Linked DNA regions of Homo sapiens: all the other regions are linked to region 3. The links come from fine-mapping of genetic effects on gene expression. A gene starts in region 3. Each other region holds a variant in brackets. All regions are shown on one strand. Distances are from middle to middle.

The links.
Region 1: its variant is fine-mapped to the expression of ATP2C2-AS1 in esophagus mucosa (GTEx, PIP 0.98).
Region 2: its variant is fine-mapped to the expression of ATP2C2-AS1 in neutrophils (BLUEPRINT, PIP 0.95).

What each region holds. Positions count from the first base shown.
Region 1 is chr16:84,500,276-84,504,275 of GRCh38, reverse strand. The region is part of intron 1 of MEAK7 (MTOR associated protein MEAK7); the gene reads left to right. Among named protein-coding and RNA genes, the nearest start is that of MEAK7, 2.4 kb to the left of the region's middle. RefSeq lists an enhancer at 1-207. The variant G/A (reference allele first, on the strand shown) is at 1,816.
Region 2 is chr16:84,565,310-84,569,441 of GRCh38, reverse strand. COTL1 (coactosin like F-actin binding protein 1) reads left to right here. Exons shown (of 4, transcript NM_021149.5): 4 at 2,487-3,846. The coding sequence ends at 2,597. Among named protein-coding and RNA genes, the nearest start is that of COTL1, 51 kb to the left of the region's middle. The variant A/G (reference allele first, on the strand shown) is at 2,453.
Region 3 is chr16:84,465,392-84,469,391 of GRCh38, reverse strand. It overlaps ATP2C2-AS1 (ATP2C2 antisense RNA 1), which reads left to right and starts at 2,031. Exons shown (of 3, transcript NR_146503.1): 1 at 2,031-2,088.

The DNA of each region.
Region 1 (4,000 bases), 35 kb before region 3:
GAGCCTGTGTAGACGCGGAAAGGGAGGGGTGCCTCCACGGAGGAGGCGAGTCTGGGGTAGACACTGAAGTGTGTGTGGAGGGGGTTTTCCTTCTTGTATTCTGACCACACCCATCTGGGCTTTTCCAGGACAGTGAGCTGATAACTGTTCCCAGGCCATGTAGGTGGCCAGCACAGGACAGGTCACCTTCTGGCCCACAGGAACTTCTTGCCCAGGCTCAAGCTGCCCCTTCGCACAAGGGCCTCTGGGCTCTGAGACACAGACAGGACTTCGAAGCCTGTCCAGATGAGGCAGTTGGAATCTCCCCAGCTTGTGGGGGTACGGAGGGACCCTTGTGTGGCTCTAGGGATGCGGGGCCCTTGGAGTAGAGAGTTGGAGCTTGGCAGCCAGGGTGGGAAGCAGCCATGTAACAGCCTGTTGGAGAAGCTCTGAGCAGGAGGTGACTAAGCCATTCCTAGGATACTAGTGGGAACCTTGGGGGCCATCCTGCAGACAATCGGTCCCTGTCCACCCCTCCATCACGGAGGCAGAGCAACCTTCCGTTTCTTCCAAGCAGGGCAGTTTCTCTTGTTCTAAGACAAGATCCCAAGGAGCCATTCTCTGTTGTCTTGGGCCCATTATTCTGTCTCTGACCTCCAGTAAGCAGATCAAATGCCCTGGGTTACCTTATTTAATCTTCTCAACCTTATGTTAAAGAAATTAATTAATGATGCTTATTAAAAGCACATTAATTATTGAAGACCATTGCAATGGGTATAGGGACCACAGCAATGGGATTTTGTAGTAAAGGAGAGAGATTGGGCTCAACTCTGATTATAGCATGGGCAAGTGGGAAGCCAGGAAGCAGGGTGGGGATCAGTGGATGGAAGATGACTGAGGAAACATCAGGGCGCTAGGGTGGATTCTGGGTAAGCTTACCTAGCAGTTTGTTACTGAAGGCAGGCCAGGGTGATCAGACATCACCTAGGGCAAGCTCGTCCAACCCGTGGGCCATATGTGGCCTAAGGCGGCTTTGAATGACATCCAACACAAATTCATAAGCTTTCTTAAAACATGAGATTTTTTTTTTACCATATATGTAGATATATGCACTTATCAGTTATTGTTAGTGGGTTTTATGTGTGGCCCAAGACAGTTCTTCCAGTGTGGCCCAGGGAAACTGAAAGATTGGATATCCCTAACCTAAGCATTAAACCTGGTTAGATAGCAAGTGAACAGATAATGGTGATCAAATATCAAGGATGAGTGGTTTTGTGGGTTTTTTTGTTTGTTTGTTTTTTGTTTTGCTAAAACCAGATTTTACAAAGAGGTACACAGATGGGCCCAGGAGCCTGACTAAAGTCTGGTCAAGCAAAACATCTTGGTCACTTATTATGGGCTGCTGGAACTTTTGTTTGTGTTTTTATGAGACAGAGTCTTGCTCTGTCACCCAGGCTGGAGTGCACTGTTGTGATCTTGGCTCACTGCGACCTCTGCCTCCTGGTTCAAGCGATCTTCCCACCTCAGCCTCCTGAATAGCTGGAACTATAGTCACACGCCACCACACCCGGCTGAGGTTTGTATTTTTGGCAGAGACGAAGTCTCACTATGTTGCCCAGGCTGGTCTCAAACTCCTGGCCTCAAATGATCCTCCCAAAGTTCTGGGATTATAGGCTTGATGATGGAAAGCTTTCAGTCCCTGGCAAGTTTTCTCGGTGTCATGGGACTTTCACAGTACACCTGGGTACATGGGGTGGCCTCTTCTCTGCAAAGCTGTGCATAACACAACCCTACATTGGCCTCGAGACTTCTGTGGGTTCCCTTGTATCAAGTTCC[G/A]CTTCCATTTTGTTCCGCTGCCCTACATCCTCAGAAGCCAGGTTTTCTCACCTTCAGCCCTACCGATGTCTGGGACGGACACTTCCTCGTCGTAAGGCCATCCTGTGCACTGTAGGATTTTTAGCAGTATCCCTGGCCTCTGCCTGCTAGATGCCAACGGCACTCCCCTCCCCCAGTTGTGGCAACCACACACTTTTCCAGTCATTGCCAAATGCCCCTGGGGGACGAAACTGCTCCAGTCGAGCTCCACTGGTACAAGCAACCTTGATGTGCGCTGTCAGCACCAGCACCAGCGTGCATTGTCTTTTTTTTTTTTGAGACCGAGTTTCACTCTTGTTGCCCAGGCTGGAGTGCAATGGCATGATCTTGGCTCATTGCAACCTCCGCCCCCTGGGTTCAAGCAATTCTCCTGCCTCAGCCTCTCAAGTAGCTGGGATTACAGGCATGCACCACCACACCCGGTTAATTTTGTATTTTTAGTAGAGACAGGGTTTCTCCATGTTGGTCCAGCTAGTCTCGAACTCCCGACCTCAGGAGATCCACCCGCCTCGGCCTCCCAAAGTGCTGGGATTACAGGCGTGAGCCACCACACCATTGCCATTTCTTTATCTTGCCTGGCACGGGGCTCTCAAAGGAGACGGGCTGTCCTTGAGCCGTTCTGAGACGTGTCCCTTCACCAGCACTCTGCAGGTACTAAGAATGGCAGTGCTGTGGACAGCGCTGTGTTCTTAGGGGCTGCCCACCTTCCCACCTCACTGGCACCAGCCCTGGGGTTCCTACTGGGGCCTCCCATGCAACCTCCTCTCTCCTGCTTGAAAAAGTGGCGTTGCCAGCCTGGCTCTGCGTCCAAGCCTTTCCTGTCATCTCCTGGGCCTGCCCTGGTCTGCGCCGCTTCTGTGCATTTCTGGGTTCCTGTCCTGCCTGTTGGCACTTGCCCAGCCCTGCACCTTTCTCCCGGCTGTCTGGGGTTGGTGAGGGCTGGCCAGGCTGCACCCTGCTGCTGTTCTCCGACCACAGTGGGGGAGCCTGTTTCTGGCAGAAAGTGGGAGTTGGGGTGGGATGGAAGTGAGGGGCTGGGTGGAGTCAGGCCTGGGCCCCCTTCTGCTGCAGCCCTCTGCTGCCCTCCCCCACGTGCCCTGAGTTCCACCCTTGCCTCGCTGATCCCAACGCTCTTGCTTATGCCCCGTGCGTGCTGTTCCCACTTCCTGGTGAATCACCTGTGAGTCTCTGAAGACTCAGCTGGAATGTGACCTTTGGGACCTTTTCCACTCTTCACTCTTCTTGTTACACCCCCAGGCCACACCCATCCCCATGCCCTTGTCTCTGTTTCCCCTCTTTTTTTTTTTTTTTTTTTTCTTTTTTTTTTTGAGACGAGTCTAACTCTGTTGCCCAGGCTGGAGTGTAGTGGCGTGGTCTCGGCTCACTGCGACTTCCGCTGTCCGTGTTCAACCAATTCTTCTGCCTCAGCCTCCCAAGTAGCTGGGATTACAGGTGCACAGCACCATGCCTGGCTAATTTTTTTGTATTTTTAGTAGAGATGGGGTTTCATGTCGTTGGCCAACCTAGTTTCGAACTCCTGACCTCAGGAGATGGTGTGGCCCACCTTGCAGGCTCTTCGAGTTGATGCAGAGGGTGGGTCTGCTTTGTTTTGGCTGCTTGGGCTGTGTCCCTGCAGCACCCAGACTCAGCCGGTGCAGCCCCTCTGTTTCAGAGCTGGGGACAGCCGCCTGCCGCTGGACATTGAGTCCAGGCTGGAGGTTTTCCTTCTGGGCTCTTCTGCTGCTGCGAAACGTGAGGAGTGGAAGCGGTGAGATCAGATGGGGCGTGGGTGAGCACCCAAACGGGGTCGGGTAAGCCCTCGTTTCCAGCCTGTCTGTGTAAAGTGCACCCCCATCCCCTTCCAAGGAGCCCCCCAGTGGAGACTTCCTGTGCAGAGGGGCACATTAGCAGTGAGGCCTGTTAAAGGCCCATCCGCTGCGAAGATGGGTGTCATATAAAAGGCGGAGAAATAACTCGCTTTAGTGGGGGTGTGGATAGATGGAAGCTCATGCTTTACTGATGGGATTATAGAGTGGAGAGCACTTGGCGGCCCCTCAGAATGTTAAACAGAATTACCATGTGACCCAGCAAGTCCACTCCTAGGTGTCGACACTGGAAATTGGAACAGGGGGACTCAGGTACTCAG
Region 2 (4,132 bases), 100 kb before region 3:
TTCGGGATGCTCCTGGGCTCATCATTCTTGGCAATATGGCGACTTTTTTGTTTTTTATTTTTTAATTGTGGTGGAATTCATTTAACATAAAATGAACCTTTTTATGTTTATTTATTTATTTTGAGACAGATCTCACCCTGTCGCCCAGGCTGGAGTGCAGTGGCGCGATCTTGGCTCACTGCAACGTCCGCCTCCCGGGTTCAAGCGATTCTCCTGCCTCAGCCTCCCCAGTAGCTGGGATTGCAGGCGCCCGCCACCACGCCCGGCTGATTTTTGTAGTTTTAGTAGAGATGGGGTTCCGCCATGTTGGCCAGGCTGGTCTCGAACTCCTGACCTCAGGTGATCTGCCTGCCTCGGCCTCCAAAGTGCTGGGATGACGGGCGTGAGCCACCGCACCTGGCCTGAACCATTTTAAAGTGTACAATTCAGTGGCTTTCAGAACATTCACAGTGTTGTGCAAGCCCTACCTCTGTCTGGTTCCAAAACTTTTTCATCACCCCAAAAGGAGATGGTGGCTCTTTCAAGACGCCAGCTTTGGCATCAACTGGACCTTCTGGTTGTCTGACTTCGGACAAGCATTGTAATTTCCAGCCTTTGTTTCCTCACCTTTAAAATGGAAATAATGTTGATCACCTTACGGGCCTTTTTAAAAAGAACTTGATTGAGGTATGATGTATGTACCTCAAAATCAAGTCATCCTAAGTGTACTTTTTCAGTACTTTTTCGTGAATTTGTGGAGTTGTGCACCCATTACCACAATCCCAATTTTAGAACGTCTCTATCATTTCCTGTTCCCATCTCCAGCTCTGTGTAACCACGAGTCTGCTTTCTGTCTGTATGGGTTTGCCTTTTTTAGACATTTATACCAATGGCAGCTGACAGTACATGGTCTTCATGCCTGGCTTCTTTCACTCAGCATCCTGTTTCCGAGGTTCATCCATGTAGTTGCGTGTGGCAGCGCTTCATTCCTCTCTGTGGCTGAGGAATATTCCATTGTGTGGACGGACCGTGTTTTGATAATCCACTCCTCTGTTGATGGACATAGGGGTTGCTTCCACCTTCCATGATTCATATTTACTACTGTGTGTCATTCTCAGTACTGTGGCACTGTGCTGGTACACATAAGTGCTTAATAATTGTGGTTAGCCGGGCGTGGTGGCTCACGCCTGTAGTGCCAACACCTTGGGAGGCCAAGCTGGGCGGATCACTTAAGGCCAGGAGTTTGAGACCAGCCTGGCCAATGTGGCGAAACCCTGCTTCTACTAAAAATACAAAAAATAGCTGGGTGTGGTGGCAGACGCCTGTAGTTCGAGCTACTTGGGAGGCTGAGACATGAGAATGGCTTGAACCCTGGGGGCAGAGGTTGCTGTGAGCCAAGATTGCGCCACTGCACTCCAGCCTGGGCAACAGGCTTTTCTCTCAAGAAAAAGAAAAATGGTGGTCATTGTTTATGTTATTTCCTTATGGGCTTTTTTTTTTAATGTGGATGATTTTCTTACCTTTAGACGTGTTATTTGTGGTTTTGATAGCTTTTTTTTGTCAAGCTGTCCGTCATCGTTCTGAAATTTTGTTTGTTAAAGTCTTATGATCCACATATGGCAGTAACTGTGTATCATCATGGCTTAAGGGTGTCTGATAAGCCAGGTCACCTGGTTCCCTCATTCATGCCACAAGCGTTTACTGAGTGCATCATGGGTGCCTGCGGGTTCTATGGGTGAAACCTGTGTACTGCAAGAGGAAAGACTGACTGCATCCATTTTGCTGAGCCCTGTAGCCCCACAGCCTGGCGTGGTATTTGTTGAAAGAAGGCAGAGCCTCTACCCTCGTGTAACTCAGTGCGGGTGGAGAGCCCATGGCAGACCCAGGACTGGAGGCTCCTGCGTCATTAGGAACATTGGTGGCTGAAGCTTGCTTGTCCCAGCTGGCGAGAGCCAATTACGCCTGTCTCCTTCCACCTCCACGTATGGTGACATCACTTTGATAGCTTGACGTCAGCCACTGGGGGACTATTTACATCATGGATATGGGCAAAAGACACCAATCTGAGCTTTTGTCCTTTTCTTTTTTTTGGAGTGCCTGCACACCCGTGAGCCTTTCCAACCTCGTAACCTATTATTTTCCTGACGAGATAGTTTTTTACAGATGAGAAAGTTGAGGCACAGAGAATTGAAGGGACTTGGCCAAGGTAACAGCCCAAATTCAAGCCCCAGCTTCCTCGGGCCATCCCCACGGACATGGGAAGACGCAGCATCAGATCTGCCCCACTCCCTCCTCCCAGTCAGGTTTTTTCTGCCAGATGACTCTGCTGTTCAATTTCCATTGACTCTGCTGCTGAATTTCCATTGACTGACTCTGCTGCTGAATTTCCATTTCCATCTCTCATCAGGGTTTTCAGTGCTTTGCTTCCCAGTGTGTTGCCTGAGCCACCCTCACATCCTGTGCCTTCCTTCTT[A/G]ATAGGAACGCTGTGTTTTCCTTTGTTCTTGCAGAATTTCGCTAAGGAGTTTGTGATCAGTGATCGGAAGGAGCTGGAGGAAGATTTCATCAAGAGCGAGCTGAAGAAGGCGGGGGGAGCCAATTACGACGCCCAGACGGAGTAACCCCAGCCCCCGCCACACCACCCCTTGCCAAAGTCATCTGCCTGCTCCCCGGGGGAGAGGACCGCCGGCCTCAGCTACTAGCCCACCAGCCCACCAGGGAGAAAAGAAGCCATGAGAGGCAGCGCCCGCCACCCTGTGTCCACAGCCCCCACCTTCCCGCTTCCCTTAGAACCCTGCCGTGTCCTATCTCATGACGCTCATGGAACCTCTTTCTTTGATCTTCTTTTTCTTTTCTCCCCCTCTTTTTTGTTCTAAAGAAAAGTCATTTTGATGCAAGGTCCTGCCTGCCATCAGATCCGAGGTGCCTCCTGCAGTGACCCCTTTTCCTGGCATTTCTCTTCCACGCGACGAGGTCTGCCTAGTGAGATCTGCATGACCTCACGTTGCTTTCCAGAGCCCGGGCCTATTTTGCCATCTCAGTTTTCCTGGACCCTGCTTCCTGTGTACCACTGAGGGGCAGCTGGGCCAGGAGCTGTGCCCGGTGCCTGCAGCCTTCATAAGCACACACGTCCATTCCCTACTAAGGCCCAGACCTCCTGGTATCTGCCCCGGGCTCCCTCATCCCACCTCCATCCGGAGTTGCCTAAGATGCATGTCCAGCATAGGCAGGATTGCTCGGTGGTGAGAAGGTTAGGTCCGGCTCAGACTGAATAAGAAGAGATAAAATTTGCCTTAAAACTTACCTGGCAGTGGCTTTGCTGCACGGTCTGAAACCACCTGTTCCCACCCTCTTGACCGAAATTTCCTTGTGACACAGAGAAGGGCAAAGGTCTGAGCCCAGAGTTGACGGAGGGAGTATTTCAGGGTTCACTTCAGGGGCTCCCAAAGCGACAAGATCGTTAGGGAGAGAGGCCCAGGGTGGGGACTGGGAATTTAAGGAGAGCTGGGAACGGATCCCTTAGGTTCAGGAAGCTTCTGTGTAAGCTGCGAGGATGGCTTGGGCCGAAGGGTTGCTCTGCCCGCCGCGCTAGCTGTGAGCTGAGCAAAGCCCTGGGCTCACAGCACCCCAAAAGCCTGTGGCTTCAGTCCTGCGTCTGCACCACACATTCAAAAGGATCGTTTTGTTTTGTTTTTAAAGAAAGGTGAGATTGGCTTGGTTCTTCATGAGCACATTTGATATAGCTCTTTTTCTGTTTTTCCTTGCTCATTTCGTTTTGGGGAAGAAATCTGTACTGTATTGGGATTGTAAAGAACATCTCTGCACTCAGACAGTTTACAGAAATAAATGTTTTTTTTGTTTTTCAGAAAACAGTTTGGTTTCTGATTTGTCCTACAAAGTTCTTTTTTTTTTTTTGCTGTAATAACAGAGGCAGTCATCATCGCCTTCAGATTTAATAGGTGTTTGCGGAGCTGCTGAGGCGGGGCACATTCACATTCAATTGCTTATTTAATTCTTAGCAACCATAAGAAACAGGTGCTGCTTTTGTCCCCATTTCCTGAAATCTGAGGCTCAGAGGGATTCATTCACCCGAGGTCACCCAGATAGAAAGTGGCAGAGCTGGGATTTTTTTTTTTTTTTTTTTTGGTGACAGAGT
Region 3 (4,000 bases):
CTAAATTTCGTGTTTTTTGTAGAGGTGGTTTCGCCATGTTGCCCAGGTTGGTCTCAAACCCCTGAGCTCAAGCAATCCACCCACCACAGCCTCCCAAAGTGCTGGGATTCCAGGCATGAACCACCGTTCCAGGCCTCTTACTGACCTCTTTTATCCAGTAGTTCTCCCCGCTTGAGCATGCATCAGATTTGCCTAGAGAGCTTCTTAAAATGCATATTGCAGGTCTGCATTCCTGCTTCTGATGATGTAGGTGAGGATGGGATTAACTCTTGACAACCTTATCCATTTCTTTTACCATTGGATTGTTTTAAATCTCTGCTGGAAGTCTTCAAATTACTTTATGTAATATTGACCCCAAAGTATTGAAACTCTTTTGTAGTTATGTTTTTTTTCCTTTTCTTGTGTTTTCATTTTCCTAGATTGGATTCAGTTACTAATTTTGCTTTTATATTATTCCTGCTTTTCTTCAGTTTTTTTTTTTCAGTTTTTTGAGTTATTTTACTAAATAAAAAATAATGGAAGTAGATGAATACATAAAGCTATTACTTTTTTCTTGGGCCCTGAGTTATTTTGCAGTATTGTATAGATAGGTGTGTGTTGATCATAAGCTTCTAGATTTTCTGTGGCCTTCATTTTGATTTTCTCTTGTACCCAAGAGTTTTTAAATTTTGCTGTGCTAGAGAATTTCCCCTAGTCCTGTCACTCGTCTTTAAATTAGATTGCATAGTGATTAGAGATGTCATCTGTATTATTATTTTTTTAAGACAGAGCCTCACTTCATTGCCCAGGCTGGAGTGCCATGGTGTGATCTCAGCTCACTGCTACCTCTGCCTCCCAGGTTCAAGCGATTCTCCTGCCTCAGCCTCCCGAGTAGCCTGGGATTACAGGCGCCCACCACCATGCCCAGCTAATTTTTGTATTTTTAGTAGAGATGGGGTTTCGCTATGTTGCCCAGGCTGGTCTCAAACTCCTTACCTCAAGTGATCCAACCGCCTCGGCCTCCCAAAGTTCTGGGATTACAGGTCTGAGCCACCATGCCCGACCAAGAAGTCATCTATATTAGATCTACTCTTTGGAATCACTGAGGTTTTGTGTCCTTTCATGTGGTAAGTTAATATAATGAATTTTCTGTATCCTTTGCCTGAATTTCCCATACTGTTTCCTCTTTAAATTTGAATGTTGTGTTGGTACATAGTCTGGCCTATGGATTTTTCAGTGGTGATTATATCTTGTTAAATTTCCTTCTTGGTCTCCTTTAATGCTTTTGGCCTTTCTTTTAATCTTGTCTGATTAGACTGTGTCACCTTGGTCTTGTGTGTTGTTTGTCTTTACCTGGTGTATTTTTGCCCTATGAGTATATCTTATCTTCTTACACACTTTGAAATAATTTTAGATTCATATAGACTTCCAAAAATTGTACAGGAGTTTCTGTCACTCCATGAGTGAGTGGATAAAGAAATTGTGGTACATCCATGCAGTGGAATACTAGTCAGCCATGAAGAAGAACACACATAAAACAACTTGAAGGGACCTTACAGGTATTATGCTTAGTGACAAAAGCCAGTCTTAAAAGGTTCTATACCATGATTCCATTTATGTAACAGTATTGAAGGAACAACATTATGGTGATGAAGAAGGGATTAGAGGTTGCTGGGATTAGGAGGGTGTTACTATAAAAAGTAAGGAGGAGTTTTTCAGGGGCGATGGAAGTTTTGCCTCCTCATTGTAGCAGTGGTTACCTGAATTGATGTGTGTCATACAATTTCATAGAACTTGTGTTGTGGGGGGCAGGAAACCACTCTCAGACCCAGTGATTGGCTAGAAAGACTCAGGACTCAGAAACTGTTGAGCTCAGAGGGAGAGGGTGACCAGTCTCTGCAGTTGCAGCCCTGGGGCTGTTCTAATCTGTATCTTTTCCTGGTAATAGACATGGCTGTGAGCATGACAGGTGTCAGTGAGCTCTGTGTGCCTCATCAACGAATCATCCAACCTGAAGGTGGTTGTGGGAAACTCTTGGACCTGCAGTCAGTATCAGAAGGCCTGGGCAGACTTGGCCAGCCACCTGGAGCACTGTGCCCTTAAACTCAGGTTTGCCTAACATCAGATACTATGTAAAAACCAGTGAAATTGAAATAGGTCTGCTGATAACAATATCATACCAAGCTTGTTAGAACAAGTTTATCTGTGTCTTAAAAAAAAACAAAAACAAAAAAACCCTGGGATTTTGATGGTAATTGTGTTAAACCTAATACAACAATCTCGGGAGAATTGATACTTTTTTTTGAGACAGACAAATAGTATTCAATTTTAAATTTCAGTTTCCAGTTGTTCATTGCTAATATATAGAAATACGACTGCTTTTTGTGTGTTAACCTTGTATCTTGTGGCTTTACTAAACTCGTTGATTCTACGAGGGTTTTTCTTTTTTAAAAAGATTTGTTGGGATTTTCTGTGTGGACAATTACGTTATCTGTGATTTTCTCCTTTCCAGGCTCTTTGCTAATGCCTTTTAACTTTTCTTGCCATATTACACTGGCTAGGACTTCTAATACTGTGCTGAATAGGAGTGGTGAGGCTGGTCACCCTTGGACCTTATCCTGTGGGGAAAGAATTCAGTTTTTCATCATTAAGTATGATGTTAGCTATAGGTTTTTTGTAGATGTTCTTTATCAGGTTGAAGAAGTTTCCTTCAATTCCTAGTTTGAGAGTTTTTATTACAAATGGAGATTGAATTTTATCAAATGCCTTTTCTGCATTAATTGATATAACCATGTGTTTTTCCTTCTTCAGACTATTAATATAGTGAGTTATATTGGTTTTTGAATGTTGAACTTTTCAGTTATATTGGTTTTGAATGTTGAACTTTGGAATGCTTGAATTCCATTCCTCAATTAACCCCACTTCGTCCTGGTGTCTTATATTCTTCGTACCTGGCTAGATCTGATTTCCTCATATTTTGTTGAGGATTTTCGTGCATATATTCATAAGGGATGTTGGTCTCTAGTATTTTTCTCTAGTTTTGGTATCAGAGTGATTGTTGACCTTATAAAATGAGAAGTGCTCGGTCCCCTTTTATTTTTGGAATTCAGTGTATCGAATTGCCATTTCTTTACAAGTTTAGTAAAATTCACCAGTGAAATCATCTGGCTTCAGAAACTGCCTTTTTTGGAAGGGTTTCAACTTCAGCTTATCTATTTAATCTTCAGTGAGTTTTGGTAGTTTTTGGTTTTCAAGCAATTGGTTTATTTCATCCAATTGATTGAATTTAGGTACATAAAGATGTACATAGTATTATTTATTATTATTGTTGGAATATCTTGAAGGGTTTGTGGTGATATACTTTTTCATTCCTGACATTGGTCATTTCTCTTCCCTTTTTTCTTTGATAAGCTTATTGCAAGACTGATAGTTTTATTGATCTCTTCGAAAAACTAGGTTTTGATTGATTTTCCTCTATTTTTGCTTTTTCGTTTGATTTCTGCTCTTTATTTTGGTGACTGTTTCTATGCTACTCGTGAATGGGGTGTTCTACAAGTGTAAATCAAGCTAAGTTGCTTAATGGTGGTGTTCAAGTCTACTGTGTCCTTAATGAAAAGAAGGTCTTAGTTTTAATGTAGTCTAATTTATATTTTATTGTTAGCATTTTGTGTCTTACTACAGTTTTATCCCTAAAGTTTACATAAGCAAGAGTTCAGAGTAATCGACCCTGGTATTTTGATTACTTAATTTTAAATGGGAAGTAAATGTCTCGGGCCAGCAGTGTGCCCAAGGATCCTGAAAAGTAGAGCAAGAATTGTCCCTGACTCAGGGGGAGGCACTCCTTAGCAGACTGTGGAAGTGGCACACTTCAGCCTTGACCTCTTAGTGGTTCCAGGGGTTGGCAGCTTCTAGGAAGACAGCCCCACAGCTCAAAAGGTTTCTTCTCCAGCCAGCCCTGTGTCTGTGTCTCACTAGGAATGGCCCATCGCTGCATCTCCTCCTGTGGCCCTGGTGTCACAGG